Linked DNA regions of Homo sapiens. The protein of the gene in region 1 interacts with the protein of each later gene in a pairwise test. Each region holds a gene or a part of one and is shown in the gene's direction. Other genes may lie near its edges.

Evidence for each region. The genes of interacting proteins can lie anywhere in the genome.
Region 2: the proteins of DTNB (region 1) and PPFIA1 interact in binary tests that used the Homo sapiens proteins (3 or more experiments, as listed by UniProt).

Annotation. Positions count from the first base shown.
Region 1 is NC_000002.12:25,621,436-25,625,088, reverse strand, and holds part of DTNB (dystrobrevin beta), read left to right. Parts: intron 1-3,653.
Region 2 is NC_000011.10:70,375,190-70,378,842, forward strand, and holds part of PPFIA1 (liprin-alpha-1), read left to right. Parts: intron 1-1,342; coding exon 1,343-1,411; intron 1,412-2,840; coding exon 2,841-3,006; coding exon of another isoform or gene 3,007-3,014; exon of another isoform or gene 3,015-3,282; intron 3,283-3,653. UniProt on the Homo sapiens protein: May regulate the disassembly of focal adhesions. May localize receptor-like tyrosine phosphatases type 2A at specific sites on the plasma membrane, possibly regulating their interaction with the extracellular environment and their association with substrates.

The DNA of each region.
Region 1 (3,653 bases):
GATCATTATAATAAGAGAGTATAAGACCCTACAACAACGGTCAGGAACAAATAGGATCTAAGACTTTTCCTTAAGTATTTTCTTAAGACCTAATTTTTTTTAATACTGAGAGTTCTGAATATGTTATATTTTGATAATTAAAAACATTGAAAAGCACAGAGACCAATATTCACAAAACACCTGGGTGTAGAATCTTAGTGAAAGCCACAAGGAGTTGTGAAAACACTGATAGCTGCATTTTTTTCCTCTCAGTTTCTCCGGTACAATGTTATTGGTAGTCATACAGTCTGGTGCAAAGGTACAACAAAGGTGCTTTAACCAATATAATAACGATATCCAAATTCCCAGCATGAGATAGAGGAGGTCTTCCTTACTCTTCTATAGCTGAGCCAGTTTCACACTTTAAGGTTTGTTACTTAAAAATCCCCTTTCTATTTCCAACCTTTGTGTTAGTCCAGTGTCTTTAGCTGTAAAAAGCCTACCCACATGGCCTTTTCATAACAACATGTGTATAGGCTGACAAACTGAGGGGTCCAGAGGCAGGCCAGCCCCTCATCTTGGTTGCATCAGAGCTCTGGCTTTATTTCTTTGCGCGGCTTTGCCCCCTTCTTGTATCAGCTCCATCCTTAGGCTGACTTCACAAAATCCCTGTGAGCAGCTTCTACTAAATGCCTCCTCTTTGAAGTTGAGGTTAAGGAAGAGTTGGCTTCTTTGAACACCGAGCAGAAGTACCCATCTTTTAGACACCCATGACACAGCCTCAGGAGGTCCTGACAATGTGTGCCCAAGGTGGTCAGAGCACAGCTTGCTTTTATACATTTTAGGAAGACATGAGACATCAATCAGATACGCTTAAGATTTACATTGGTTTGATCTGGAAGGGTGGGACAACTTGAAGAGGGACAGGGAGCTTCCAGGTCATAGGTAGATTTAAACATATTCTGATTGGCAGTTGGTTGAAAGAGTTATGATAAAGAGTTGTGGAGAGCTAGGTTTTATCACACAGATGAAGCCTGCAAATAGTAGGCTCTAGAGAGAATAGACTGTAGATGTTTCTTCTCAGACTTAAGGTCTGTGTTGATGTTAACACTGGAGGGTATCATGAGGCATGTCCATCCCCAGCTTCCCATCATGGCCTTAACCAGTCTTTCTGGTTAAATTTCAGAGTGCCCTGGCCCAGGAGGGAGTCCACTCAGATGGTTGCAGGGGGCCTTTGAATTTTATTTTTGGTTTACACTTACAATCTAATATCTAGATTTCCTGTGGTTCTTTTTGTACTGTTTGTTGTTTCTGGTTTTCATTAATGATGTTTTATTTCCTATTTGCTTTGTTATTTTTTATTATAGGCTGAACATTATATAGCAAAATTATTTTTATTATATACCAAACATTATATTGCAGAATTATTTGCAGGGATAATTTGAGGCCTAGGATGATGTTTTCTTCAAGAAAGGATGTGTGTTTGCTTCTTCCAGGTGCCTGGAGACCTTAACAATCCAGGATCACGTCAATTCAGTTTCTTAATCAGTACATGTGAGGACCTGTTTACTTCTGGACACGATTACCTTTAGGTGAAGCCTTTGGGCTCTGAGCCCAAACTAATAGGAGAGTAGGGTAAGCAGGACCACGTGTCCTGCCAAGGGACCCCTTCTGCCTTGGCAAGTCCAAGCCTCCATGTCTTTCTCCTTGTCCCCAGTACCATCAAAAAGTTACTCTATACTTCAGCAATTTTGCTTCCCCCTCTGGAATCAAATCACTTACATGGAAAAAGTGATTTCATCCATTGCACTCACCTCCCTGGACATCCAGCCTCTCCTGCATTTGGTAACTTCAGTTGTTAGTTCTCAACAATTTATATTCAAGGAGATTTTTTAAAACTTTCCCCATCTTTTCTTTTTTGCTCAGAGGAAGAGTTGATCAGAATCACCTAGGGTGCTATTACCAGAAGCTCATTATTTCTTCAAATATTTCCTCTGTTTTTGTTTTCTCGTTTTCTGATTGTTGGCATTTCTACTTCTTTCCTCTTTATCTATTAGTGTTCCTCACATATGGTTTAATTTCTTTAACTTTGTTTCCTTTTGGAAGAGTTTATTGATCTGCCTTTCTGCTCATTAATTTGTTCTTCCTCTGGAGCCATCCTACTGTTTATTCCATCTGTTATTTCTTTAGCTATTATATTTTCTATATGTAATATATCTGATTTTTCTTTTTTGGGATTTGTGGTTCTTGTTTCGTATTGTCTTTTTAAACATGTTTATTCTTAGTTTTAAATTCTTGGTCCATTTGTTCTAGGACTTATGCTTCCAAACCTGGTGTATGTTGTTCTGTTTTGTTTTGTTTTTCTAAGTAGTTGTATCCCTGTGTCTAAGGACTAGCCAAGGAGTGGATGTTTGCTGAGAATGTGGGCAGAACTTGGACATGTGGGCTAGAGTGTTCACATGCATGCATAGTCCTTTCAAGCATGGGATGTGCTGGAGGTGGGAAGAAAAGGGGATCAGGTTCTTCCCACGTAGGAGTATGGGGTGCCTTACAGTTCTAAATTTGAACATGACATTTCTGGCCATTATAAAGGTATGTTAGTCAAGGTACAAAGATGGAAATAAATACATATATTTATTTATTTTTCTGTCGTCCAGGCTCTAGTGCAGTGGCACAATCTTGGCTCACTGCAACCTCCACCTCCTGGATTCAAGCGATTCTCATGCCTCATCCTCCTATTTGGGACTACAGGCATACGCCACCACGCCTGGCTAATTTTTATATGTTCAGTAGAGACGGGGTTTTGCCATGTTGGCTAGGCTGGTCTCAAACTCCTGGCCTCAAGTGATCCACCCGACTTGGCCTCCCAAAGTGCTGGGATTGAATACAGCCATAAGCCACTGCACCCGGCCAGATTGCTCTTATACTTTATTTCTGACTGTTGAATCTTATTTTTTCCTCTGATATATTTCATCCATTTATGTTTTACAAATGAGTCTGTGGCCTTTACCAAAAGTGTTGGTTCAGAAATAGAATGAAATTTCACCTTAAAAATGGAATAAACTGGTAAAAAAAAAAAATGATGTATCTAATGAAACTAGTTTGGACAAAGTCTGTAAAATACATCTAAATCTTAAAAAATACAAAATACGGTATTGAACACATCATTTAAAGGCCTAGGGTTATTGTTTACCATCTACAATAACACTCAGTAGAAAACATTCTTGCTAATTTGAACAATCGAAAGATTCCTTTGGTGTAAAGATACTTATATAATTTATAATAGAGTTATATGAAAAAATTCCTGTGTAGTTTGCAAATGTGGCTAACAACCATTTAAAAATGTTGGTTTAGGCTGGGTGCAGTGGCTCATGCCTGTAATCCCAGCACTTTGGGAGGCTGAGACAGGCGGATCACCTGAGGTCGGGAGTTCAAGACCAGCCTGACTAACATGGAGAAACCCCATCTCTACTAAAAAAAAAAAAAAAAAAAAAAAAAAATTAGCCAGGCATGGTGGTGGTGCATGCCTGTAATCCTAGGGAGGCTGAGGCAGGAGAATCGCTTGAACCCGGGAGGCGGAAGTTGCGGTGAGCTGAGATCACACCACTGCACTTCAGCCTGGGCAATAAGAGCAAAACTCCGTCTCAAAAAAAAAAAAAAAAAGTTGATTTAGC
Region 2 (3,653 bases), on another chromosome or scaffold:
AAAAAAAAAAAAACTTCAGACAACTAGTTTTTGGTTTTTTTTTTTTTTTTTGGTCTATTGGCTTTCCCTTTTCTGTTGGAAGCATGAGAGTCCTGCAATAAACCAGATAAGGACGATCTTTCATTCCAGCCCATGTGCCTGATCAGAAGAGTGACATATATTTAGTTCTTACATGGAAAGAGAAGTGTTTTTAGGTGTGCCACATGAAGATTTTATTAATTTTGTTTTTATGGGTAATTGCCTTATGCCATTCTTTTTGACTCATGGGCTCATTTGAAAAACAGGGAACTTTTATTCCTCTACAGAACATTGAATATGCCAGGCAAGGTGGCTCATGCCCACAATCCCAACACTTTGGGAGGCCCAGGTAGGCAGATTGCTTGAGTCCAGGAGTTCGAGACCAGCCTGGCCATCATGGTGAAGCTCTGTCTCTACAAAAAAATACAAAAAAATTAGCCAGGTGTGGTGGCACATGCCTGTAGTCCCAGCTACTTGGGAGGCCAAGGCAGGGAGATTGCTTGGCCCGGGAAGTGGAGGTTGTGATGAGCTCTGATTGCGCCACTGCACTCCAGCCTGAGTGACAGAGTGAGACCCCCATCCCAAAGAAAAAGGAAAAAAAAAAAAAAAAATTGAATATCTTTGGCCAATACCCCTGACCAACCCACACAACACACCCTTGTTAATATGACTCCAAGGATCATGGATCCCTTTCTGCAAAAGCCCATCCATTGACTCCACATTAGATGCCCTGATTTAAAATATTATTATGGTTCAATGTAGTCATAGCAGTGAGGGAGTTGTTTTTTTGTTTGTTTTGAGATGGAGTTTCGCTCTTGTTGCCCAGGCTGGAGTGCAATGGTGCAATCTTGGCTCACTGCACCCTCTGTCTCCCAGGTTCAAGTGATTTTCCTGCCTCATCCTCCCAAGTAGCTGAGATTACCGGCACACGCCACCGTGCCCGGCTTATTTTTGTATTTTTAGTATAGATGGGATTTCACCATGTTGGCCAAGCTGGTCTCAAACTCCTGATCTCAAGTGATCTGCCTGTCTCGGCCTCCCAAAGTACTGGGATTACAGGCATGAGCCACCACACCCAGGCCCTAATTTTTGTATTTTTAGTAGAGACGGGGTTTTACCATGTTGCCCAGGCTGGTCTTGAACTCCTGACCTCAGGTGGTCTGTCCGCCTTGGCGTCCGAAAGTGTTGGAATTACAGGCGTGAGCCACCAGACCCAGCCAGCAGTGAGGGAGTTTAAGTCTTGGTTTAAAAAACAATTACGATGCTAACACCCTTCAAATTAGATTTGATGAAAGTTTTATTTGTTTTTCTTTGGTTATTTCAGGCTCGTGCTGTCTTGGAAAGAGAATTTAACAACCTTTTGGTCATGGGGACTGATAGAAGGTTTGATGAAGTAAGTTTTTGGCCTAATGTTCTTTAAATGTCTGAAATGTGTGTAAATGTTTAAATGTGTGTGAAATGTAAGCTGTTATTATTATTATACTTGGGACATCATGTAGCTAGGCAGTCTCTCTGGATGTTAGAAGTCAGGCTTTGCTCTTATACATTTATTCACAAATGAGCCTTTAAAAACTAATACCTGGGCCGGGCACGGCGGCTCGCACCTGTAATCCCAGCACTTTCGGAGGCTGAGGCGGGCGGATCACCAGAGGTCAGGAGTTTAAGACCAGCCCGGCCAACATGGTGAAACCCCATCTCTACTAAAAAACACAAAAATTAGCCGGGCGTTGTGGTAGGTGCCTATAATCGCAGCTACTTGGGAGGCTGAGGCTGGAGAATCGCTTAAACCTGGGAGGTGGAGGTTGCAGTGAGCTGAGATCGCACCACTGCCCTCCAGCCTGGGCGACAGAGAGAAACTCCATCTCAAAAAGAAACCCCCTCCCCGCAAAAAAAAAACCCACAAAAGTAATACCTTCAAGAAGGTAGTTTTGTTTTTATTTTTGCTATTTAATTTTTGACATCCCTCAAAAATGGTTTTCACATCATAAAACATTGGTTGCAGCTTAGGAACAGAGTCTGTAAGTTGGGTTTTGGGGACCAGTAGTTATCCTACCCCAGTCCAGAGTGTACCCCCATACTCCTGTGCATGGGTGGGGTGGCATGTTTCAGAAGTATATTAAAAACACAAAATGTTAATTTCCCCTTAAAACCATGACTCATTTGTTCCACACGATTAGGAGTCTCTTAATTGGACCTTAAGAAAAGTTGAGTTTGACAGAGAGAATAGAAGACCACCTCTAAAGATGAAGCACTTGTTGCTATATCCTGGCATAAGATAAAATTGTTTCTAGTTAAAAATTGTTTGTAGAGCTGCGTGTGGTAGGGGCACACCTGTAGTTCCAGCTACTTAGGAGGCTGCGGTGGGAGGATGGCTTGAGCCCAGGAGTTTGAGGTTACAGTGAGCTATAATCACACCACTGCATTCCAGCTCGGGCAACAGATCTAGACTCTGTCTGTAAAAACATAAATAAAAATGAAAAATAAACTATTTTTAAGATAAATAAAAACGTATTACGTTGCAAGAAAGTGATTCCTGCAAGGTGTAAGAAGTAGAACATGATGCTGTGGAGAAGGAGCACATCCTCATGGCCCAGCACCGACCTCATTTCGCCAGCTGAGGCCCAGCCGGACCATCACCATGCCCCGTTTCACGCTGAAGTTCCAGGTTGGGCAATATATTGTGTGGTCATCAAGAAGGGATTAAATACATGTGGACAAGAATACATTCTCGAGATCAGCAGTCATTTTAAAGGACATGTAACTTTACATCTCTGACCTTTATTTTTTAAATGAATCTTGTTTTTTGTTCCTTAATTTACCAGGATGATGATAAAAGCTTTAGGAGAGCACCTTCATGGAGAAAAAAGTTTAGACCAAAGGACATTCGTGGCTTAGCTGCTGGGTCAGCAGAGACTCTCCCTGCAAACTTCCGGGTGACTTCTTCTATGTCTTCCCCCTCTATGCAGCCAAAGAAGATGCAGATGGACGGTATGTGATGGGTCACACTAACCTGTCACTTGTTGGGAGCATGAGCAGCTTTCTGTCTGGAACATTAATAATGATCTAAAACGGCCTATTTAATATGTTACAAGGCACTTGAGTATGGTTGCATGTCCAAATATAAATGTTTTTAAATTAACTCTAACATTTGTTTATAAAAGTTTAACCATAATAATAGAATTTTTAAAACACGCTTGTCTGGTTGAATCTTAGCATATTTTTCCAACTAATAAAGCTCAGTATTCGTCTGTGTTCTCAGAGAGAGACTGAGGCATACTTGTAAATTTGTGTCTGTGACAGGCCGTGCTAGAAAGCTCTTTCAGGAAATAGTAGTGTAGTAGTAGCTTCCAAACCACATAATTTACTGCTCTCCACACCAGAGAAAATAACTGAGTACATTTTTAAGAACACACAGTTTCCAGCTTGTGTGAGCTCTGCCTATGCTTTCTGCCCTCCCTGCTGCTGCTGTTCCGTGCAGTCACATGTCTACCCATTAGAGGGCAGGGAAGGGAGGAAGGTGAACCTCCAAGAAGTCCCCAGTGGAGCGAGGCAGCTATTGACTATACCAGCCAGAGAGAGAGCATCACTGCCATGATTTCACATGCAGTTTGGGATTTTCCCTTAGACGGCCACTT